Homo sapiens: one gene and its partners. The protein of the gene in region 3 purifies or fractionates together with the protein of the main gene of each other region. This does not show direct contact. Each region holds a gene or a part of one and is shown on either strand. Other genes may lie near its edges. The genes, in order: ARMC6, STK39, AARS2, HPN, SIRT4, SCN2B and DHRS4.

What was found.
Region 1: the proteins of AARS2 (region 3) and ARMC6 purify together in Homo sapiens (co-immunoprecipitation; one large-scale study listed by IntAct). This does not show direct contact.
Region 2: the proteins of AARS2 (region 3) and STK39 fractionate together in Homo sapiens (co-fractionation; one large-scale study listed by BioGRID). This does not show direct contact.
Region 4: the proteins of AARS2 (region 3) and HPN purify together in Homo sapiens (co-immunoprecipitation; one large-scale study listed by IntAct). This does not show direct contact.
Region 5: the proteins of AARS2 (region 3) and SIRT4 purify together in Homo sapiens (co-immunoprecipitation; one large-scale study listed by IntAct). This does not show direct contact.
Region 6: the proteins of AARS2 (region 3) and SCN2B purify together in Homo sapiens (co-immunoprecipitation; one large-scale study listed by IntAct). This does not show direct contact.
Region 7: the proteins of AARS2 (region 3) and DHRS4 purify together in Homo sapiens (co-immunoprecipitation; one large-scale study listed by IntAct). This does not show direct contact.

What each region holds. Positions count from the first base shown.
Region 1 is NC_000019.10:19,047,103-19,050,602, forward strand, and holds part of ARMC6 (armadillo repeat-containing protein 6), read left to right. Parts: intron 1-3,500.
Region 2 is NC_000002.12:168,164,096-168,167,595, reverse strand, and holds part of STK39 (STE20/SPS1-related proline-alanine-rich protein kinase), read left to right. Parts: intron 1-188; coding exon 189-297; intron 298-3,500. UniProt on the Homo sapiens protein: Effector serine/threonine-protein kinase component of the WNK-SPAK/OSR1 kinase cascade, which is involved in various processes, such as ion transport, response to hypertonic stress and blood pressure.
Region 3 is NC_000006.12:44,298,231-44,300,789, reverse strand, and holds the end of AARS2 (alanine--tRNA ligase, mitochondrial), read left to right. Parts: intron 1-78; coding exon 79-243; 3' UTR 244-2,059; downstream 2,060-2,559. UniProt on the Homo sapiens protein: Catalyzes the attachment of alanine to tRNA(Ala) in a two-step reaction: alanine is first activated by ATP to form Ala-AMP and then transferred to the acceptor end of tRNA(Ala). Also edits incorrectly charged tRNA(Ala) via its editing domain.
Region 4 is NC_000019.10:35,058,721-35,062,220, forward strand, and holds part of HPN (serine protease hepsin precursor), read left to right. Parts: intron 1-338; exon of another isoform or gene 339-952; coding exon 953-1,082; intron 1,083-1,153; coding exon 1,154-1,276; intron 1,277-1,408; coding exon 1,409-1,449; intron 1,450-1,626; coding exon 1,627-1,792; intron 1,793-1,906; coding exon 1,907-2,097; intron 2,098-3,500. UniProt on the Homo sapiens protein: Serine protease that cleaves extracellular substrates, and contributes to the proteolytic processing of growth factors, such as HGF and MST1/HGFL. Plays a role in cell growth and maintenance of cell morphology.
Region 5 is NC_000012.12:120,305,321-120,308,820, forward strand, and holds part of SIRT4 (NAD-dependent protein lipoamidase sirtuin-4, mitochondrial), read left to right. Parts: intron 1-3,500. UniProt on the Homo sapiens protein: Acts as a NAD-dependent protein lipoamidase, biotinylase, deacetylase and ADP-ribosyl transferase. Catalyzes more efficiently removal of lipoyl- and biotinyl- than acetyl-lysine modifications.
Region 6 is NC_000011.10:118,173,840-118,177,998, reverse strand, and holds the start of SCN2B (sodium channel regulatory subunit beta-2 precursor), read left to right. Parts: upstream 1-1,359; 5' UTR 1,360-1,567; coding exon 1,568-1,637; intron 1,638-4,159. UniProt on the Homo sapiens protein: Regulatory subunit of multiple voltage-gated sodium (Nav) channels directly mediating the depolarization of excitable membranes.
Region 7 is NC_000014.9:23,963,770-23,966,774, forward strand, and holds part of DHRS4 (dehydrogenase/reductase SDR family member 4), read left to right. Parts: intron 1-808; coding exon of another isoform or gene 809-829; exon of another isoform or gene 830-1,992; coding exon 1,993-2,063; exon of another isoform or gene 2,064-2,162; coding exon 2,163-2,214; exon of another isoform or gene 2,215-2,513; coding exon 2,514-2,648; exon of another isoform or gene 2,649-2,936; intron 2,937-3,005. UniProt on the Homo sapiens protein: NADPH-dependent oxidoreductase which catalyzes the reduction of a variety of compounds bearing carbonyl groups including ketosteroids, alpha-dicarbonyl compounds, aldehydes, aromatic ketones and quinones.

The DNA of each region.
Region 1 (3,500 bases), on a different chromosome or scaffold from region 3:
GCCACCATGCCTGGCTAATTTTAAATTTTATTTTTCATTAAGGAAGAGTGGAAATACATTCTTAGCATAAAGGATTCAAGCAATACTCAAGCATTTATAGTAAAATCTGAAAGTCCCTGCCTTGTCCCTCCCACCAGACACTGGGGTTTGCATCTCAGCGGTCAGTTCGCAACTGAACCAACCCCCTTCTCAAATGCCCTGCAGCATAATTGACCTTTGTGCATCTTGGCTTAGATGTGTAAAAAATGCTTATCTGTTGAGGGAGAAAAAAATTCAACATTGTGATGGTCGTTGAAATTAATCTGTTTGTGTCATAAGATTTGTTGCAAACAGGCTTGTAGAAACAGAAGGAAAATAATGTCTGGAGACTGTCCAGGGAAAAACTGAGCCAGCCAGGCCACATTTATATGTGGGAAGTTGTAGAATGAAAGGCATTAGTCACAGAGACTGAATGACTCCAGGAGTCAATGGGTAAAGCCCCCCTCCATGAGCAAGGTGGTGAGCGCCACAGAAAATTGTCATAGGTAGAACACAGCTGGCTCTGCCACCTGCATTTTAGCAACCATCTGTCAATGAAAATACTCTATAAAATATTTCAAGAGATTTATTCGGAACCAAATATGAGTGACCAAAGGCCCATGACACAGCCTCGGGAGCTCCTGAGAACATGTGTCCAAGGTGGTCGGGCTACAGCTTGGTTTTATACGTTTTAGGGAGACATGAGATATCAATCAATACATGTGAGACGTACATTGGTGTGGTCTGGAAAAGTAGGGCAGCTGAAAGCCGGGGCTTCCAGGTCATAGACACATTTAAAGATTTTTCTGGCCAGGTGCTGTGGCTCACGTCTGTAATTTCAGCATTTTGGGAGGCTGAGGTGGTCGGATTGCATCGAGCTGAGGAGTTTGGGACCAGCCTGGCCAACATGGCAAAACCCATCTCTACAAAAAATACAAAAATTAGGCCACGTGTGGTGGCTCACACCTGTAATCCCAGCACTTTGGGAGCCCAGGCAGGTGGATCACCTGAGGTCAGGTGTTCGAGACCAGCCTGGCCAACATGATGAAACCCCGTCTCTACTAAAAATACAAAAATTAACCGGGCATGGTGGCAGGTGCCTGTAACTCCAGCTACTCAGGAGGCTGAGGTAGGAGAATTGCTTGAACCCGGGAGGCAGAGGTTGCAGTGAGCCAAGATTGCACCATTGCACTCCAGCCTTGGTAACAAGAGCGAAATTGCATCTCAAAAAAACAAAAAACAAAAAACAAAAATTAGCTGGGCATGGTAGTGGGTGCTTATAATCCCAGCTACTTGGGAGGCTAAGGCGGGAGAATCACTTGAATCCAGGAGGCGGAGGTTGCAGTAAGCCGAGATCATGCCACTGTACTCCAGCCTGGGCAACAGAATGAGACTCAGAAAAAAAAAAAAAAGATTTTCTGATTGAAAGAGTTATCTAAAGACCTAGAATCAATAGAAAGGAATATTTTGCTTAAGACGGGTTGTGGAGATCAAGGGTTTATCAAGGAAGCCTCCAGGTAGCAGGCTTCAGAGAAAATAGATTGTAAATATTTCTTATCAGACTTAAAAAGGTGCCAGACTCTTAGTTAATTCTCTCCTGAATCAGGGAAAAGACCTGGAAAGGGAATCTCTGTAGAATGTAGCTTTTCCCCACAAGAGATAGCTTTGCAGGGCCATTTCAAAATATGTCAGAGAAATATATTTTAGGGTAAAATACTTTGATTTCTTTCCATACTGTATTAGTTAGGCTGGAACTTGGTGTCTTATTGCTACAAAAAAGTCTTACGATGATCAGTTATGTCTGACTTCCAAAGGCAGGAAGATAAAATGAGACATATTTGACCGCCACTTCCCATCATGACCTGAAGTAGTTTTTCAGGTTACCTTTGGAATACCTTTGGCCAAGAGGAGGGGTCCTTAGTATGGATGAGGACTTAGATTTTTTTTTTTTTTTTTTTTTGAGACAGGGTCTCCCCAGCTAGAGTGCAGTGGTGTGATCTTAGCTCACTGAAACCTCTGCTTCCCGGGCTCAAGCAATTCTTCAGCCTCAGCCTCCCATGTAGCTGACTACATGGTGTGAGCCACCAACATCTGGCTAATTTTTGTATTTTTTTTAGAGACAGGGTTTTACCACGTTGCCCAGGCTGGTCTTGAACTCCTGAGCTCAAAGCGATACACCTGCCTTGGCCTCCCAAAGTGAAGAGATTACAGGCATGAGCCACCATGCCCGGCCAAGAATTTTATTTTTAGTTTACACATCCTTGCTAACTTAGTAATTCCTTGTGAAATCTTGGTAGTTCTAACTCCAATACTGTGCATCCTCAAAGGCATTTCTGTCAGGAGCTTTTCAAGTTTCTTACAGGGTTTCTGCTGAAGTGCTACACCGCTGTTTGTTATGTAAAATGTGCATAAAAACATTTACCATTGTAACCATTTTTAAATGTAGAGTTCAGTGTCATTAAGTACATTCATAATGTTGTGCAACCATCATGACTATCCATGACTTGCGATACTGAAACAAACTCCATGTTCCTCTTCCCCTCAGCCTCTAGCAACCATCATTCTACCTTCTGTTGCTGCAAATTTGACTACTCCAGGACCTCATATAAATGGAATCACAGGCTGGCCACCCTGGCTTATGCCTGTAATCCCAGCATTTTGGGAGGCTGAGGTGGGCAGATCACTTTGAGGTCAGGAGTTAGAGACCAGCCTGGCCAACATGGTGAAACCCTGTCTCCACTAAAAATACAAAAATTATCCGGGCGTGGTGGCACATGCCTGTAGTCCCAGCTGCTCAGGAGGCTGAAGCGGGAGGATTGTTTGAACCCAGGAGGTGGAGGTTGCAGTGAGCTGAGATGGTACCACTCCACTCCAGCCTGGGTGACAGAGGAAGACTCCATCTAAAAAAAAAAATTTTTTTTAAATAAATGGAATCACAGTATTTGTCTTTTGGTGACTGTCTTATTTCACTTAGCGTAATGTCCTCAAGGTATATCCATAGCATACTATGTGCCTGAATTTCTTTGTTGTCATTGTAGTGTTTTTTTGTTTGTTTGTTTTTCTTTTTGGAGACAGAGTCTCTCTCTGTCGCCCAGGCTGGAGTGCAATGGCACGAGCTCAGCTCCCTGCAACCTCCAACCTCTTGGCTCTGATGAATCATGCTGCTATGAACATGGGTGTACAGGTATCTCTTTGAGACTGTGCTTTCAGTTCTCTTGAGTGTATCCCCAGAAGTGGAACTGATGGGTCACACAGTAATTCTGTTTGATTTTCTTTTTTGAGATGAATGCTCCGTATGTTGCCCAGGCGAGTCTTGAACTCCTGGGATCAAGTGATCCTCCTGCCTTGGCCTCCCAAAATGCTGGGATTACAGGCATGAGCCACCACGCCTGGCTTCTCTGTAGGTTTGAATTGCATTTTTCCTAATGATTAGTGACATTGAGCATCTTTTCATGTATTAGTGGCCATTTGTATGTATTCTT
Region 2 (3,500 bases), on a different chromosome or scaffold from region 3:
TAATCTGAGTTGATAATGTGGGTGAGAGAATTGGTCCTTATATACCTTCTTTGAAGTAATGGCTTAGGCAGCCCCTCAGGTAGGCTTTCGAGTAGGAAAGTTACCCAGGTACTCAACTGTGATTCACTTGTGTTTTGCTTGCCAATTTTCACCCCATGGTACTATGTCATGTTTTGCTCTTTTTATAGAAAGAAATTCAAGCCATGAGTCAGTGCAGCCATCCCAACGTAGTGACCTATTACACCTCTTTTGTGGTCAAAGATGAACTTTGGCTGGTCATGAAATTACTAAGTGGAGGTAAGTGGATTTTGTTGTTGTTATTTATTTGCTTGTTTTCTCTCCTTTTGTTGGAACCAGCATATTGGAGAAGACTTTAGATTGAATCCTTTCTCTCCTGTGTTTGAAAGTTTGTTTGGTTTCTCATTGCCTAGAGGATAACGTCCAGATTGCTTCACATTGACCTTCAAAGCTTTTCATAATTTTGCTTAACTTCCGAGAATGTGTATGTCCTCTTCTCCAGGTATGAAATGCCCGACCTTCTAGGCTGAGAGGCAGCCCCCGGAATGTATTATGTGCTCTCATGCCTTTGCCCCTGACCTGTCCTCTTTCTCAGCCTTGCATCTCTCCTTTGTTTTCCATGTGCTCAGGCCTAAAAGGTCACATCCTCTCCACAGTCACCGCTTACTCTTCAAAAAAGTTAGCCAGTCCTTTCTCCTTGAGTCCTTTCTTTTTAACATTGTTCAGGTCCTTAACACATTGCAGTTTGCTGAATTATCTCAGTGCCATTTATCAGAATGTTCTGTGATGATGGAAATGTTCTGAGGTGCTGCTATCTACTTTTTACTAATCCCATGTGACTCTTAAGCACTTGACATGTGGCTAGTGTGACTGAGGGACTGAGTATTCAATTTTAATTAACTTACATTTAAATCACCTTGTATGGCTCCAGTATTGGACAGTGCATATTTAGGTTGTGGACTTTGTGAAGATTGTCTAATGCACTTTGAATTCATTGAACTTGGCGCCCAGTAGGTGCTCACTAAATGTGGTTTCAGTTGACATGGGGAGAAATGTGTGCTACATATTCACTTGCAGTGTTGATCAGAAATGGCACTATTGTCATCCTATTGTTGCATTTGGGAAGGGAAAGTCACTTCCTCTCTCTAGCTTCAGATCCCTGCAGTGATGCAAGCCATTGACAATTTAATTTACAAGGTGCTTTCACATCCTGTATTTTATTTCTTTTAATCTTCTAACATCACTATCAGAGAGGGAATGATAATGATAACCGTTGCCTTTTTTGAACACTTACTCTGTGGCTAGATCCTGTCCAAGGCAATTTACTGACCTTATCCCATTTAATCTTCACAGTGTCCCTGAATGGCCTGTGTCACCATCCCTGTTTTTCAGAAATTACACCAAATTTCAAGGGAGTTTAGCAACTTGCCCAAGGTCACACACATAGTAAATGTTGGTGCTGGAATTTGTGACTTTAACATCTGTTGACTTAAAAATTTGTATGCTGTGCTGCAAGTATTTACACCTTCGTTTTGCAGACATGGGCACTGAAGCTTAGAAAGCCCAAGTGATTTCCTTGGGAACACCCAGCATACCCACATCTCTGGTGTGTTCTCTTTCGAGGGCTTGATTCTCTGGGTATCTTTCTGAGACATGAAGTATGGTTTAGGATCAGAGGAGAACATTTTGCTGTGCCTGGACAACCCAAAACTAGCATAGCAGAATTTATATGATAGAGCCTATTTTAATCTGCAGATGTCGAGGGAGGTGTTTTAATGTTTTCCTTTTTTAAAAAGGAAACTCTCTTGGATCAAGCAGAAGCCCAAAAATGAGATGACGAAGGCATTGTAATTGGCTTGGGTCTGCTTGTGTAGGTCTCGGTGGGGAGCCCTGGGGAGCTTAGTTCTGTTCTGTTTTCAGTCTTCCTCAGTCTTATTAGTCATTGTTTCCTTGAGTGCCTACTTCAGTTTTTAATTAAAAAGAAAAAAAGAAAAAGGAAAAGAAAAAGGAAGCCTGCCAGAGCTGGACTGCAGTATTGAGTGCTGGGACTGCCCCTTTATTCAGCAGAGGAACTTGCGCTTTGCCAACAAGATGATCTTAAGGCATTCTCTTTTTGTGGGGTTCCACCAACTCTGAGGAAATGAGAAATTCTGATGACTTGAGACCCTGAATAGTCCCAAATGCTCTGCTCAAGCTGAAGATTTTACCTTTTGCTTTATGAAGCTGAGAATCTTCTGTTTTCTGAGGAGGATCTGACAGAAAATTTCTTTGTCTTTTTGAGTCCAATTTAGCCTCTCTGGGCTTTAGGTAAGAACAGATTTTAAACAGGTTTCCACAGGTAAGGACGTGGGCAGACGTGGACTCTTGTTCATTTTTCTTTTAGCAGGACAGAAATGCATGCATGCCTGGTATGGTATATCCTTATACAATAAAAAGAAAATGTTTTTGGAATTATCATTTTTTAAATGACACAAAAATCTAAGAGTCAACAAATAAACAGAGGTTTTTTTTTCCTCTGGGGAAAAATATGCATTTGTTTTCTTCTATTTCATTACATTGAATCTCTTAATGAGGGGCAGGCAGCTGTATCTGATGGGGAAGCTCAATCCTCTTAGTTAATTATAAAGAGCCTAGAGCCAAATTCAGGTCCTGAGGTAAGCCGTTTGTTAACTCTTCAGAAATGTCAAACCCCCAGGTAATTTTGGCTTTTAAACTGACCCAGGGGTTTGGAATACTAATTAATATGTGTTGAAACATGAATTCACAGTGCCAAGGATACTAATCTGTATATGGTAACAAAGTACTAGGTATCTGTTTGTTTATTGTAAGTGTTAGTGCCTCAAATATATCAGGTAAATGAAATAAAGATCAGCCAGGCTCAGTGGCTTATGCCTATAAGCCCAGCACTTTGGGAGGCCAAAGGTGGGCAGATCACTTAAGCCCAGAAGTTCAAGACCGGCATGGGCAACGTGGTAAGACCCCATCTCTACAAAAAATACAAAAATTAGCCAGGCGTGGTGGCACGTACTTGTAGTCCCAGCTACTTGGGAGGCTGAGGTGGGAGGATCGCTTGAGCCTGGGAAGTTGAGGCTGCAGTGAGCTGTGATTGCTCCACTGCACTCCAGCTTATATGACAGAGGCAGACTCTGTCTCAAATAAAAAAAGAAAAAGAAGGAAAGAAAATAAAGATCAGGTAGTGTCACAGGAAGGAATCTTCCGGTTATAAGCAGAGGTCTAGAAACAACATACTTCTTTCCCCCTCCCACCTGTGATTTAGGTCCTCAAAGAGTGTGTTTTTTTTCTCTCAGCAGTTCACTTCTGCCTTTTCTCCTGGCCTCATACTCCTTTCTTTGTCAGTTCAGACTTTTTGCACCCTCTTTGGAGGGTTGCTCTTAGGAATTTTTGTGAGAAATACTGTAACCAGAAAAGGAACCAGCCATGGAACGGCCATGAACAGCCTTCTGGTCCCTGACCCAGAATCC
Region 3 (2,559 bases):
CACTCTTGAGGGTACCTTGAGTGGATGCTGGCAGGGAGGGCCACTCTGCATCGCTTCCTCTTCTGATTCTGTTCCTAGGGTGCCATGCCCACCTTCACAGCAGAGGCCTGGGCACTGGCAGTGTGCAGCCACATGGGGGGCAAGGCGTGGGGCTCACGAGTGGTGGCCCAAGGCACCGGAAGCACTACTGACCTGGAAGCTGCCCTCAGTATAGCCCAAACCTATGCCCTCAGCCAGCTCTGACCCAGGTCCGCCCAGGGACCCACATGGACTAAAGGCAATGCCAGGAGCCCTGAAGGAGCCAGCAGAACCTTCCCACATGCTGAAGCGAGGACTAGAGGCTGGAGGCCAAGCAGCTGAGCCAAAGAAGATCACCTGGGCCAGGGCCTACGTGACACAAGGAGACATGGGCTAGGGAAGGCAGAACTGGGCCCAAAGACACACACCCCCTTGGTGAAAGAGAAGACATGGACAATTATGGCTGTGACTGCACATTAGAAATTATTTCACTGGCCGGGTGTGGTGGTTCACACCTGTAATCCAAGCACTTTGGGAGGCCGAGGCAGGTAGATCATGAGGTCAGGAGATCAAAACCATCCTGGCTAACATGGTGAAACCCCATCTCTACTAAAAATACAAAAAATTAGCCGGGTGTGGTGGCACACGCCTGTAGTCCCAGCTACTCGGGAGGCTGAGGCAGAAGAATCGCTTGAACCTGGGAGGTGGAGGTTGCAGTGGGCCAAGATCGCACCACTGCACTCCAGCCTGGGTGACAGAGCGAGACTCTGTCTCAAATAATTATTTCACAGAGGATAGCAAGCTCCAGAAGGTTCTATTACCTTTAAAAAAGAGTAGTTTTGCCCCTCCCAGCAACCTAAGACCAGTCTGAACTCACACTGTCTGAAAGGCCACCCAGGATCCAAATCGGGCCATCTTCATTGCCATGAGTGTTCGGACAGGCTCTGCGTGCCAGGCAACAGTGGGCAGACAAAGGGCTCCCTGGCTACTGGGAAGATACAGAACCATCCTGTGAAAATCATTTCAGCACTGGAGACCTTCTTTGCTATTACTTCTTTCATTAACAATGACCTCTAATTTAAATTGGGCCCTGCTGGTTTGTTGATGAATTGAGCAACTGAGAACGTGGCGGGCACTAAACTGACAGTTCCTTCCTTCATGGAGCCTGCTTCATGTGGAGGAAACAGGAAATAAAGCAAAAGAAGAGGGTCAGGCTTGGTGGCTCATGCCTATAATCCTGGCATTTTAGGAGGCTGAGGTTGGAGAATCGCTTGAGGCCAGAAGTGCAAGACCAGCCTGCGCAAACAGCAAGACCCTGTCTACAAAAAAAAAAAAAAGTAATCTTTATGCCTCAGCCTCCCAGGTAGCTGAGACTACCCACACCTTGGTCCCAGCTACTTGGGAGGCTGAGGTGGGAAAATCACTTTGCCCAGGAATTCAAGGCCGCAGTGAGCTATGATTGCACCACTGCACTCCAGGCAACAGAGTGAGACCCTGTCTTAAAAAAAAGAAGGGAGAAAGTGTCAGATGGTGATGAGGTCTGGGGGGGAAATAGAGAATGGGGATCAGGAGTGTGGATGGTGATATTCCCTCACCAAGAGGTGACATGTGAGCAGGGAGCTGGGAGGTGAGGGTGTGACCCGTGTGGAAATCAGGGAAAAGCATTCCAGCCTGAGGGAACAGCCAATGCAGAGGCCGTGAGGTGGCCAGTGCCACTGAGCAGTGAGCTGGGATAGGGGCAGGTGAGGAGGCTGGAGAGCGGGGTCAGACAAACAATATGCTTATTAAAACAAGTTGTACAGCACCTGCCTCAAGCCTGAGCTGAAGCTGAAAATTGGCACTTCAAAGCAGGAGGAAGCAGAGATGGAGGAAAGCCCTCCTTCCCTACCAGAATGAGTCCACCTCAGACAGCCAGACTTTGGACCTCTGCCTTTGTTCCTAGATCTCTGTTGCTAGATGAAGGAAAGGGCCTCAGGGGATCCATCTTCAAATCAAGGGCTCCCTGGCTACCAAATTCTGTCTAGTAAAAATTATTCGAGCAGCGTGGGCCCGCCTGGCATCATTTTCTGCAGTTTCTCATTCTAATTAAGGCACTGATGATTTGCTGGTAAGGCACTGCTGAGGGCTTGAAGGGACCCAATCCCGGGTGCCTGGCCCCTCACTGCTTGCAAAGCAGCATCCTGGCCACTGGGGCAGTAGCCTGTTTAGCAGTGCTCACCACAGGCCCAGGTTCAAGCTCCTCCGCGAGCGCCAAGATGAGTTTTGGCACCCCTGATTTATTGATGAGTTAACAGAGCTTCGAGATGTTCATCCAGGGTAACCAACTAGTAGTCCTCGGCAGAGCTGAAGTCAAAGCTACCCTTTGAAAGCCCCGCCACCCTGGCTGCCTCTCCCTTCCTGAAGGCCAATTTCTTTTTTTTTACTAGCCGTCCCTCTGGTCTGTCCCTCTCGCCCTCCAGGAGATCTGGGGCCCCAACCACATCTTGTCGCGCCAGGGCTGGAAGAGAGTTTGGCACAGGGCATGGACTGTGTGAAGGAGCG
Region 4 (3,500 bases), on a different chromosome or scaffold from region 3:
AACAAATTTGTTCTTCTATTTTCCATATGCTGTCTGTGTACGTATAAAGTGAGAGGTCTTTTTATATGAGTTAAGGGTGTGACCAAAGACAAATGGAAAAAGACAAATGACAAACATACTAATAAAGAGCTTCGGTTTCTCCACAAAAAATACAATAATAAAATAAAATGTTATCAGAAATCTCTTGACTCTCCTCCACGTTAGCTCACTTTTTCCCTCAAGAGGGTGAACATGACCCTTAACAGATCCAGCCTCAAGTGCTGGATTCTCTTGGGAACTTGGTTAAATGGTTTTTTTTCTTCCCGAATGTCCAAGTCACCTTCCAGACCTGCAGCTCCTGAGCAGCCAACTTAGGACTTCTAATGGAGAGTGAAGTTCCCCTGGTTCGCGGAGGGGCCGGCCACAGCCTCAAGGCTGCTGTTGATTGGTCCGACCTGAGTCCTTGAGTCTGGCAGAGTGCCATGGTGCTCTGTAATCCCACCTGTAATCCCAGCATTTTAGGAGGCAGAGGCAGGAAGATTGCTTGAGCCTAGGAGTTCAAGACCAGCCTGGGCAACATAGCAAGACCCGTCTCTACAAAACAAAACAAAACAAAACAAACAAACAAAAAAATTAGTCAGGTGTGGTGGTGCACGCCTGTGGTCCTAGCTACTCAGGAGGTTGAGGTAGGAGGATTTCTTGAGTCTGGGAGGTCAAGGCTACAGTGAGCCAAGATCACACCACTACACTCCAGCCTGGGCAACAGAGCGAGACCCTGTCTTTAAAAAAAAAAAGTCCTTGAGTCATGATTCCAGATGCAATCGCAGATGTGGGGGCTGCAACCCTCCGATGGGCTGGGGTTCACGTCTACACCACATGGCTGGAGCACAGGCCAGGAGGGGCTCCGGCTGGGGAAGCATGTGGGGAGCCTGGCTGTGGGACCCAGGCGGCCCCGGGCCCTGTCGCCCTGCAGTGCAGGTCAGCTCTGCGGACGCTCGGCTCATGGTCTTTGACAAGACGGAAGGGACGTGGCGGCTGCTGTGCTCCTCGCGCTCCAACGCCAGGGTAGCCGGACTCAGCTGCGAGGAGATGGGCTTCCTCAGGTACTGGGGGCCCTCGGAGGGGTGGGAGCCGGGAGGGGCTGGGGAGCAGGCCTAACCCCTGCCCCGCCCAGGGCACTGACCCACTCCGAGCTGGACGTGCGAACGGCGGGCGCCAATGGCACGTCGGGCTTCTTCTGTGTGGACGAGGGGAGGCTGCCCCACACCCAGAGGCTGCTGGAGGTCATCTCCGTGTGGTGAGGAGGGCAGCGGGCAGGTGGGGCAACACCTCAGACCCCCAAGGCACTCCCTCTCCCCGTTTTCCTTCCACCTGTCTTAACTGGTCTCTATTTCCTTTCTTTCTGTGTCTCCAATCCCATCTCTCCCAGTGATTGCCCCAGAGGCCGTTTCTTGGCCGCCATCTGCCAAGGTGAGATCCTAAAACTCAGAACCCTCTCCTTTAGGCCCTTGGGGAGGCCACGTCCCCTCAAGCTCCCCAGGATGGGGCCATGTACTTTCAGACCCCCTAGGGCAGGGCCAAGCCTGGGCTCTGGGGACCTGGGCTCCAGTCCCCTGTCGCCGCCCCCTGCTGACCCTTGTCCCACAGACTGTGGCCGCAGGAAGCTGCCCGTGGACCGCATCGTGGGAGGCCGGGACACCAGCTTGGGCCGGTGGCCGTGGCAAGTCAGCCTTCGCTATGATGGAGCACACCTCTGTGGGGGATCCCTGCTCTCCGGGGACTGGGTGCTGACAGCCGCCCACTGCTTCCCGGAGTGAGTGCCCCCCAATGGCGCTGATGATGGGGAGGCAGAGGAGCGGAGAGACAGTGGGGAGGAGGGCGGATTGTGCCCAGGCAGGTGGCCACCCTCCACCCCTTTCCCTGGTAGGCGGAACCGGGTCCTGTCCCGATGGCGAGTGTTTGCCGGTGCCGTGGCCCAGGCCTCTCCCCACGGTCTGCAGCTGGGGGTGCAGGCTGTGGTCTACCACGGGGGCTATCTTCCCTTTCGGGACCCCAACAGCGAGGAGAACAGCAACGATATTGCCCTGGTCCACCTCTCCAGTCCCCTGCCCCTCACAGGTAAGTCTAAGGGCTGAGCCATGGGGCTTGAGGACCCGAGGCCAGGAGGACAGAGGAGGGGACCAGGGGCACAAGGCAATCAACTTATGGCTCAGGCATCCTTGGCAATAAGGGGAATGATCTCGAGGGAGCACAAAGTGGGCCTTAACTATCAATGATCAGTGCAGCCAATTTGGAAAATTTGCCAGCATTTCCCCAAGAAGTATACATAAAGTTACCATTGGACCCAACACTTCCACTCCCAGGACAGGAGGTATATACCTAAGACAAATGGAAACTGTGTCTGCACCAAAACTCGTACATCAGTGTTCATAGCAGCATTATTCATAATAGCCCAAAGATGGAAACAGCCCAAGACTGTTTCATCGGACAAATGCATAAAGAAAATGTGGTATATTGACCGGGCGCGGTGGCTCATGCCTGTAATCCCAGCACTTTGGGAGGCCGAGGTGGGTGGATCACGAGGTCAGGAGTTTGAAACCAGCCTGGCCAACATGGTGAAACTCCATCTCTACTAAAAATACAAAAATTAGCCTGGCCAACATGGTGAAACTCCATCTCTACTAAAAATACAAAAATTAGCCTGGCCAACATGGTGAAACTCCATCTCTACTAAAAATACAAAAATTAGCCTGGCGTGGTGGCACACGCCTGTAATCCCAGCTACTCGGGAGGATGAGGCAGGAGAATCTCTTGAACCCGGGAGGTGGAGATTGCAGTGAGCCGAGATCACACCACTGCACTCCAGCCTGGCTGACAGAGCAAGGCTCTGTCATCTTGAAAATAAATAAATAAATAACAAAAAAAATGTGGTATATCCACACAACGGGAGAATATTGGACCATAGAAATGAATGAGGTACTGATTCATGCTACCACAAGGATGAAACTTGAGAACAGTGCTGAATGAGACAAGCCAGCCGCAAAGGCCACATACTGTAGGATGCCACTTGTATGAAATGTACAAGGCTGGGCACGGTGGCTCACGCCTGTAATCCTGGCACTCTGGGCAGCTGAGATGGGAGGATTGTTTGTGCTCAGGAGTTTAAGACCAGCCTGGGCAACATAGCAAGACCCCATCACTTAAAAAAATGAGCTAGGTGTGGTGACGGATACCTGTAGTTCCAGTTACTCAGGAGGCTAAGGCAGGAGGATCACTTGAGCCCAGGAGTTTGAGGCTGCAGTGGGCTAGGATTGTGCCACTGTACTCCAGCCTGGGTAACAGAGCAAAACCTTGTCTGTTAAAAAAAGAAGAAAGAAAGAAAGAGAAAGAAAAGAAAGGAAGGAAGGAAGAAAAGAAGAAAAGAAAAGGAAAGAAAGAAAAGAAATGTCTAGAATAGGCACATCGGTAGAGATAGAAAGTTGATTGATGGTGGCAGGGTGGGAGGTGGGGATGGGAGATTG
Region 5 (3,500 bases), on a different chromosome or scaffold from region 3:
GCTCACTTCAGCCTCAATCTCTTGGGCTCAAGTGATCCTTTCACCCCAGCCTCCTAAGTAGCTGGGACTACAGGCAAACGCCACCGTGCCCAGCTAATTTTTAATTTAATTTTTATTTTTTGTAGAGACGAAGTCTTACTATGTTGCCCAGGCTGGTCTCGAACTCCTGGGCTCATGTGATCCTCCTGCCTTGGCATCTCAAAGTGCTGGGATGACTAGTGTGAGCCACTGTGCTTGGCCTTGAAGCTAGGGTATTTATTCACCATCTCTCATCCCTCATGGGTCCAGGATCACTCTAGGGGAATTAATTCCCTAACATTTTGACTCTGCTCCTCCCAAGGAGGCTTCCGTGGGCAGAGAACATCTGAGGCAAGAGAGACACAGGAAACTGCTTGTAAGAAAATTGTGTAGGCTGGGCGCGGCGGCTCACGCCTGTAATCCCAACACTTTGGGAGGCTGAGGCAGGCGGATCACGAGGTCAGTTGATCGAGACCATCCTGGCTAACATGGTGAAACCCCGTCTCTACTAAAAATACAAAAAATTAGCTGGGCGCGGTGGCGGACGCCTGTAGTCCCAGCTACTCGGGAGGCTGAGGCAGGAGAATGGCGTGAACCTGGGAGGTGGAGCTTGTGGTGAGCCGAGATCGCGCCACTGCACTCCAGCCTGGGTGACAGAGCGAGACTCCGTCTCAAAAAAAAAAAAAAAAGAAAGAAAGAAAATTGTGTCCACCAGGGTGCTGTGGTTCATATCTGTCATCCCAGCAACTCAGGAGGCTGAAGCAGGAGGATTACTTGAGGCCAGGAGATCAAGACCTGCCTGGGTAACACAGCCAGACTCCGTCTCTACAAAAAATTTTTTTAAGAAAGGAAATTGGCTGGGCACGGTGGCTCGCGCCTGTAATCCCAGCACTTTGGGAGGCTGAGTTGGGCGGATCACCTGAGGTCAGGAGTTCGAGACCAGCCTGACCAACATGGAGAAACCCTGTCTCTACTAAAAATACAAAATTAGCTGGGCGTGGTGGTGCATGCCTGTAATCCTAGCGACTCGGGAGGCTTAGACAGGAGAATAGCTTGAACCCAAGAGGCGGAGGTTGCGGTGAGCCGAGATTGTGCCATTGTACTCCAGCCTGCAGCCTGGGCAACAAGAACAAAACTCCGTCAAAAAAAAAAACAAACAAAAAAACAGAGAAAGGAAACTGGGACGGGTGCGGTGGCTCATGCTTGTAATCCCAGCACTTTGGGAGGCAGAGGCAGGCAGATCACTTGAGGTCAGGAGTTCGAGACCATCCTGGCCCACACGGTGAAACCCCATCTCTACTAAAAATACAAAAAATTACCTGGGCATAGTGGCGCACGCCTGTAGTCTCAGCTATTTGGGAGGCTGAGGCACGAGAGTCGCCTGAACCTGGGAGGCAGAGGTTGCAGTGAGCCAAGATTGTGCCACTGCACTCCAGCCTGGACAACAGAGTGAGACTCTATCTCAATAAAAAAACAAAAAGAAAGGAAACTGTTCGAACGTGGCCTTTAGCATGTTCTGAGGAAAATATGAGCTGAACACCAATAGCATGTGCTATAAACTGCTGGGTTTCCAATGCCTAGGATGGCTAGATACATAGACCATAACGTAGCCGGGCAGTAGTCAGAACTCAATCAATAATGAGGGAACAGATACATGGGAGGGTATCATGCTTATGGGTCTGGCAATAATTGTAGCTAATTGGAGACTTATTTCTTTAAGCCCTAGAGAGGCTCCTCTGAGGGCTGAAGTCAGTCTGCCAATGCTGAAATATTTACTGGGTGCCTAGAATGTATGGTGTACATACGTTACACTATGTAGTACATTATAACACTAACTACTGTGCTTCTTAGTGGTCAGAACCAAAGTATAGGCTGGGCTCAGTGGCTCACACCTATAATCCCAGCATTTTGAGAGGCTGAGGGGGCGGATCACTTGAGCTCAGGAGTTTGAGACCAGCCTGGCCAATATGTCGAAACCCAGTCTCTACTAAAAATAAAAGATTGGCCAGGCGTGGTGGCGGGCGCCTATAGTCCCAGCTACTCGGGAGGCTGAGGCAGGAGAATTGCATGAACATGGGTGGCAGAGGTTGCAGTGAGCCAAGATCGTGCCATTGCACTCCAGCCTGGGCGACAGAGGGAGATTGTCTCAAACAACAAACAAAAACCAAAGTATAAAACATGGCCCACTTTATATGCAAGAACTTTGTAATATTTGGGAAGACACAAAAATAACATAATTGGCCGGGCACGGTGGCTCACGCCTGTAATCCGAGCACTTTGGGAGGCCGAGGCAGGGGATCACCTGAGGTCAGGAGTTCAAGACCAGCCTGACCAACACAGTGAAACCCTGTCTCTACTAAAAATACAAAATTAGCCAGGCATGGTGGTGCATGCCTATAATCCCAGCTACTCAGGAGGCTGAGACAGGAGAATCATTTGAACCCGGGAGGCAGAGGTTGTAATGAGCTGAAATCGCACCATTGCACTCCAGCCTGGGCAACAAGAACGAAACTCCTTCTCAAAAAACAACCAAGCAAACAAACAAAGAAAAGCACATAATTAATGATAAATGACAACGCATGATTGTGAAATTGTGTGGTTCTTGATTTATATGCTGTGCATGTTCAAATAAACAGATTTAGTAAAGATTGGAATAATCAGTTGAGAAAGCTTTTTAAAAAAAAAATTTTTTTTTTTAAATAGAGACAGGATCTTGCTGTGTTGCCTAGTCTGGTCTCGAACTCCTAAGCTCAAGCCCTCCTCCTGCCTTGATCTTCCAAAGTGTTGGGATTACAGGTGTGAGCCACCATGCCTGGCCCAAGAAAGCTTTTTTTTTTTTTTTTTTTTTGAAACACAGTCTTGTTCTTGTTGCCCAGGCTGGAGTGCAGTGGCACGGTCTCGGCTCACTGCAACCTCCGCCTCCTGGGTTCAAGTGATTCTCCTGCCTCAGCCTCCCAAGTAGTTGGGATTACAGGTGCCTGCCACCACCCCCAGCTAATTTTTTGTATTTGTAGTAGAGGTAGGGTTTCATCATGTTGGCCAGGCTGGTCTCGAACTCACTCCTGACCTCGTGATCCGCCTGCCTCGGCCTCCCAAAGCGCTGGGATTACAGGCGTGAGCCACAGCGCCTGCCCCAAGAAAGCTTTTATGGGTACAGGGGGCTTGAGATTGGCTCAGGTTTGTCTAGGCAAGAGCGGGAAACAGGGCTTTCCAAATGAAGGGAAGTTGTAGATCCCAGAGGAGTCTGGCCTGGCCTCTGTAGAGGTTTGGACCTGGGACTTGCAGAAACCAGATTGTCTGGGAAAGTTAGGCCCAAATCATGGTTACATTTGAAAATCAGGCAGTGCAGTTGGGTCTGCTGTGAGACACCAAAGGGGTTTATTAGTGGTTTCTGAGCAAGCAAGCAACATGATAAAAATAGCATTTGAGGAAGGCTAAACAGGATTAAAAAGAGCAGGTCAGGGAGGTCAGCCTGAAAGACC
Region 6 (4,159 bases), on a different chromosome or scaffold from region 3:
CCTTGGACTCCACCCACCAAGTTCTCCTACTTATGACGTTAGCTTATTTTTTCTTCCTTCTTCAAAAGAAAAGTTTTAAACATACACAAAAGAAGAGAGAACTATATGACAAACCCTTTACACCCATCACCAGCTAGTTTCAATTATCAAGCAAAACAACTAGTCTCGTGTCACCTATTCTCCCATCTCTTTTTTTCGTTGAATATATATATATGTATTTTTGAGATGGAGTCTCACTCTGTGGCCCAGGCTGGGATGTAGCGGAGTGATCTCGACTCACTGCAACCTCCGCCTCCCAGGTTCAAGCAATTCTCCTGCCTCAGTCCCCCCAAGTAGCTGGGATTACAGGCACACGCCACCACACCCGGCTAACTTTTGTATTTTTAGTAGAGACAGGGTTTCACCATGTTAGGGAGGCTGGTCTCGAACTCCTGACCTCAGGTGATCTGCCTGCCTCGGCCTCCCAAAGTGCTGGGATTACAGGTGTGAGCCACCCCGCCCGGCCACCCATGTGTGTCTTTAACAGATAGAGATGTTAAAGGACAAAACCACATTTTATCAGACCCAACAAAATTAAGAATGATTCATTAATACAATCTACTATGTAGTTCATATTTAACTTTTCCCAATTGTCTCAAAAACTTTTCTTTCCTGTTGATTTGTTTGAATCAGGTTTATCCAAAGGCCTGTGTTACATTCAATTGTAAGATCTCTTGGGTATTTTTCTATCAGCCTGCTTCAACATGTTCTGTTTTCAGAGGAAACGCTAGAATGAGGAAAGCATTACCCCTTGAAAGTCTCTCCAACTCACTTTCCTGAACCCTTTTCAATAACACAAAAACAAGCATCTCCTTTTTTTTTTTAGGTTTTTTTTTTTTTTTTCCCTCTGGAGGCAGGGCCCAGGCTGGAGTGCGGTGCAGTAGCTGGGACAAGAGGCATGCGACATTATGCCTGGCTAAATTTTGTATTTTTAGTAGAGATGGGTTTTGCCATGTTGCCCAGGCTGGTCTTGAACTCCTGGACTCAAGCAATCCATCCGGCCTCCCAAAGTGCTGGAATTACAGGTGTGAGCCACTGCGTCAGCCTGGGGGTGTTTTTAAATGATAAAAGGTGTTTCCCTTTCCAGAATCTTTAAAATAAATGGATTCCTCTAATAGCTTTCAAAATCCAACAATCATCCCAGTGAAGTCAAAAAGCAGGGTTTGTATTATTTCTTGTTTTAGAGGGTAAAAATTTCTGGGATTTTGTTCTTTTCAAAATGACTTTTTTATGCCCTCCCACCTGCTTTTTGAAATCCACCAACCACAATATTTACCCCATCCCCCTTTTCTCTCCCCCCCATCTCTCTCTCTCTCCTTTACACACTCCCTCTCTCTCTCTTTTTAGCAGCAACATACAAGCCGGCCATATTAGAGAGATGGAAATAAAGCTTCCTTAATGTTGTATATGTCTTTGAAGTACATCCGTGCATTTTTTTTTAGCATCCAACCATTCCTCCCTTGTAGTTCTCGCCCCCTCAAATCACCCTCTCCCGTAGCCCACCCGACTAACATCTCAGTCTCTGAAAATGCACAGAGATGCCTGGCTACCTCGCCCTGCCTTCAGCCTCACGGGGCTCAGTCTCTTTTTCTCTTTGGGTAAGTTAGACACATCTGCATGCTCCCGAGGGTTCAGAAGTGTAGCCGCAATGTGAAGAGGATGGGGGCAGGGGATAGGAAAGAAGACATTGCTAGCGCTTTCCCTCTGTGTCCTTGGGAGGGGAGGTGCTGGGGACTGGAAGGGACGTTGCTGGGGAGTGCAGAACCCTGGGACTACTTAGTCACAGAAATGTTGGGTCAGGGGATCTGAGTGTTGCTGGGGGCTGACAATTGTCAAGGGAGGTGAATCTTCTCTGGATTTCCCCTAAGTGGACCTACGTGGCGGTGGGGCAGAGAGTGGATTGACCTGCAGTCTCTTCAGGGATTATTTTTTGGAGTTGCTGCAAATGCGGGGTCCTGGGACTTAATGCTCCCTTAAGGGGCTTCTTTTCAGAAGCTTGATCCTGGTGGATTTAGGGTATTAGGAGAGTGTGCAGGGGAGCTGGTGGCAGAAAGTTGAGTCTGGGTCTGGCTTCTTGGCACTCGGTCTCACTGATCTGTTGGAACGTGTGTGGGAGTAGGTGGGAAGCGGGCTTGGGGAATGATGTCTGGGTTGGGAGGAGACCTGCTGAGGCACGCACTGATGGAGAAGGCACCTTTGGCTTGGGCCGGATGGAATGGAGGAAGGGCCAGGTGTAGAGATTCAGGAAAAAAATGGAACCCACAGGCTGAGCGAGGTTGCAGCCCTTTAAATCCAGCCTCAGAACTGCCCAGCCCAGTCTTGCAGACTGTCCTGTCAAGTGTTTGTATTTGACCACTCAGAGACTTCCTGGTGGGGAAGTGGGCTAGAAAGTTATTTGCAAGCCTGCTTTGTAGAGTTTCATTCTTGCTCCTAAACTTACTTATTGCTGGAGCAGCAACTGAGAGTCAAGTCCAAGGACTGTTGATGGAACTATTCCCCACCACAAAGGCTCTCTCTCTTTCTGTGGTGTGATGTGCTGGGTTTGGAGTAGGAGTGCTAAACACAGACAGTGCAGAGGCCCTGCCAGCCTGCTTTGCTGAGTTACTTGGCATATTAACATCAGAGCAGGAATGCTATGGAATCTCTGGCAGGACCTGGGTTTCAAGCCACCTTTGTCATTTACGTAATGATCACAGGCAAGTTACTCAACCCCTCTGAGCTTCAGTTCCCTCCCGGGTAAACTAAAGAATGCCTACTGCCTGACGTGTTTGTGATTTGGTGCATGGCAGGAACTCAACGATGGCTAACATAAGAATGCTTTTCGTGAGCCCAGGCACTGTGTATCTTGTTTAGCCCTCACAGCAATCGGAGGTAGATTCTATTATACTCAGGTTACAGGGAGGAAACAGATGACTATGGTAACGGGAGCTGAAATTTGAACTCCCTGTGTCTGACTTCAGCACATTCTCTTAAACGTTGGATTCCACTCCCCAATGTTCAAGAAATGGCACTGCTATATTAACAGTACCTAATTGATCAGAGTCTCAGGACAGGCTGAAAGAAGGGGAGTTGGGTGAGTGGCCTGTTGTAAGGAGGCCCAGCTGGAGGACAGGACCCTTTCCTCAGGAGTTAGGAAGCACTTCGTGCAGGAGAGAAGCCGCCTGGTGAGAGCCATGGCTAAGTAAAGATAGAAAGGGGGCTCAGTGACCAGGACCCAGAGCTCTGGGCTAGGGTGAGGAAGAGGGAGTCTGCGATGAAGAGGTCTGAGTGTTTGGGGTGGGGAGATGGTAGTGGGAGGAAGCTAAAGCTTCTGCAAAGCTGAGTGGGAGAGGATGCAGGAATGGGGACCTTGAACTTGAACTTGATTGGTGCTGTAATGAGGCATGTCCCTGGCACTCCAATGCTGAGGGCCGAGTTGACAGTGGAACTTTGGTGGTGTTGCAGTAGCATCGATCCCCAGGATGGAGGATGCCACAAGTGACGAGGGAGGGGACTCTGTCGGGGCTGGGCTTGTGGGGATGACTATGGAGGTGGCAAAGAGAAAGGGCAGGTGGGCAACCAGCTCTACCCACGGCAGAAGCATATGAGGCTAGTTTTAGCCAGAAACAATTCAAATGACTGGGCTTCCCTCAAGTTTTTCTTGAGACCGTTGACTCCACAGTCACTGGCCTGCTTACCAATGTATGGATTATGTTAGTGGAGGCATAGAAAGTGGAGTCTGGGCTGAGCATGGTGGCTCACGCCTGTATCCCAGTGCTTTGGGAGGCCGAGGTGGGAGGATCGCTTGAGGCCAGGAATTGGAGACCAGCCTGGACAACATAGCAAGACCCTGTCTCTACAAAAAAAAAAAAAAAAAAAAAAAAAAAAAGAAAAGAAAAATAAGCCAGGCATGGTGGCATGTACCTGTAGTCCTAACTGTTCCAGGAGGCTGAAGAAGGAGTATCAAGAGTTCCAGGCTGCAGTGAGCCGTGATCATGCCTCTGCACTCCAGCGTGGGCAGCAGAACCAAACCCTGTCTCTTAAAAAAAGAAAGAAAGAAAGAAAGAAAGAAAGTGAAGTCTAGTCCTCACTCTAGCCCACTGCACATATCTGCTGCTTGTGGTGGTGGGGACCCAGACAT
Region 7 (3,005 bases), on a different chromosome or scaffold from region 3:
TGCCTCAGCTTTCAACATGCCTTCCTCACTAAGCTTAATTGTTTCTAGCTTTTGATTTAAAGTGAAAGATGTGTGACTCTTCCTTTTGCTTAAACACTTACAAGCCATTGTAGGGTTAATAGTTGGCCTAATTTCAATGTAAATGTGTCTCAGGGAATATGGAGGCCCACAGAGAGGGAGAGAGATGAGAGAAGGGCAGAGCAGTCAGAACACACAACATTTTTCGATTAAGTTGACCTTCTTTTCTGGGTGTGGTTTGTGGTACCCCAAAACAATTATAATAAAACCATGAAAGATCACTCATCACAGATCACCGTAACAGATACAATAATAATGGAAAGGTCTGAAATATTCCAAGAATTACCAAAATGTGACCCAGAGACAAAGTGAGCACATGCAATTGGAAAAATGGCTCGAATTAATGCAGGGTTGCCACGAAACTGCAATTTGTAAAAAAAAAAAAAAAAAAAAAAAAAAAAAAAAAACACAATATCTGCAAAGCATAAGAAAATATGTGTCTATAACTTTTCTTTTAATTTGTATATTTTTTAAACTATCACAGTATGACAAATCCAAACATAATGGCTGATCCTTGATTGAACTCTGGACTTTAAAAAACACACACACACATTTGGGGGATAATTGAGGCCAATATGTTAGATAAAATTATCATCATTGTCAAACTCTTGGTTGTGATAACAGATTATGGTTGTGTAAAAGAAAATCCTTACTCTTTGGAAATGTATGCTAAGTATTTGGGGATAGAACATTGTACTATCTGCAACTGAGTTTACTTATTTTATTTTAGGTTATTTATTTATTTTTGTGATGGAGCCTCACTCTGTTACCCAGGCTGGAGTGCAGTGGTGCTATCTCAGCTCACTGCAACCTCCACCTCCCGGGTTCAAGCTATTCTGCTGTCTCATCCTCCTGAGTAGCTTGGATTACAAACACATGCCACCACGTCTGGCTAATTTTTGTATTTTTAGTACAGACGAGGTTTGCCATGTTGCCCAGGCTGTTCTCGAACTCCTGACCTAAAAGTGATCCACCCATCTTGGCCTCCCGAAGTGCAGGGATTGCAGGCATGAGCCACCATGCCCAGCCCTGAGTTTGTTTTTTTTTTTTAATTTACATTTTTTTATTTTTGTTCTTTGTAATTTTTGATTTTATTATATAAAATCTTTCAGAAAACTTGCAACTGAGTTTCAATGGTTCATTTAAAAAACTGTACAGATCTACAGAGAGGACAAATAGGACAAAATGTGAACAATTGGTGAATCTAAGTGAAGGATATCTAGACATTCATTGTACTTCTATCTCCAATTTTTCTGTAAGATTGAAATATTTTAATATAAGCAGTTGTCTAGAACAGTGTAAACAGGGTCATACATTTGTTTTAGATTATGGATGTGGGGATTCTGATTGTAGCCTGTCCCCCAGCTTCCCCAGAAGGTGACTCCTCATGATCCCACTTTCTAACCATGCCTAGCCAGACAGTCCTTCCTAGAGGGCCAAGAACATCTCACTCCCTAAGCCCAGAAGCCAGAGAAGTGCTAGAACAACCCCACATATCCAAGGTCAGGCCACATTTTCCCTGAGAAGCATGGCCTACTCTAGGGCAGGTAGTCTAGGGCAGGTCCAGGAGGCTGACAATTCCAGGCTCTACCTACTTGGAAGAAACAGAGAAAACACAGCTCAAATCCAAAGGCCCCTTCTGGCCCAAATCATACTTGGCTGATTATGAAACAAGATGAACCAGGCTCCATTTTTGCTCACCTGAACCTAATGTATCAATATCTAGCTGAGCAGCTGGTGAGAGCTACTTCTCCCTGAACCTCAGTTCCTTCATGTGTAAGATGCAGGTATATCATCCTAAGATCTTCGTCAGCTCTGACAAACATCCTAGGAACCCACTCTAACTCCTCATTTTTTCATGCCTCCTCCAGTGCTCTTCACTCATGCTGTTTCCCCTTCTTCTCTTGGCTTCAGACTCTGGACATTAATGTGAAGGCCCCAGCCCTGATGACAAAGGCAGTGGTGCCAGAAATGGAGAAACGAGGGTACAGAGAGTGAGAGAGAGCCTGGGTGAGAGGGGACACCACACGGGCTGAGGGCACTGGTCCACAATGGGAAGATGGTCAGCTCTCTTCTTTTTCCAGAGGCGGCTCAGTGGTGATCGTGTCTTCCATAGCAGCCTTCAGTCCATCTCCTGTAAGAACCCTTTTGTCTACCTCTTCCATCCCACCCTCCACTCCACATCTTTCCACCCCTCCTATTACCCAAGGAAGTTTGTGTCCCCTTGTAGAATCACACCACCAAGTCCCTGCCCACAAAATAGATGCCTTGCCTCCACAAACCACAACCTAGGGGAGGTTTAGCCACAAGACAGTTCCCTAACTCTGCCCCTCCCTTACAGGAGATCCCTATTGAGCACTGCCCTCTATGTCTAGTTATTAGAACCAAGAATGACCTGGAAACTATGAGTCTAACACATTCTCTTCTTTCTCCAGGGCTTCAGTCCTTACAATGTCAGTAAAACAGCCTTGCTGGGCCTGACCAAGACCCTGGCCATAGAGCTGGCCCCAAGGAACATTAGGGTGAACTGCCTAGCACCTGGACTTATCAAGACTAGCTTCAGCAGGATGGTGAGGAAGGGGAGCTTTGCATTTGACTGGGACCCCTTGAAAGGCATCCATCTTCTTGGACAGGGAAGCCCACTACCTGAGTCCTGAGCTCTCAGCCACTCCATTCTCCTTCCCTGGACTTTCCCATATTCCCTCTCTGTACCACCTGCCCTATACAAGCCACACTCTTATCACACCTTTTCTGAGGTATAGGCTGGAGACTGAGGTATTCAGACTGTACTCACACTGTTTCCTCCCTCCTTACATGGATGAGAATTGGAGAGACGCAGCAAAATGCATCACTAGAACCTGAAACAAATGAAACAGATGAGGGCAGTGGGGAGAGCTGGGAGCTAGAAAAAAATAGGAAGTGAAAGA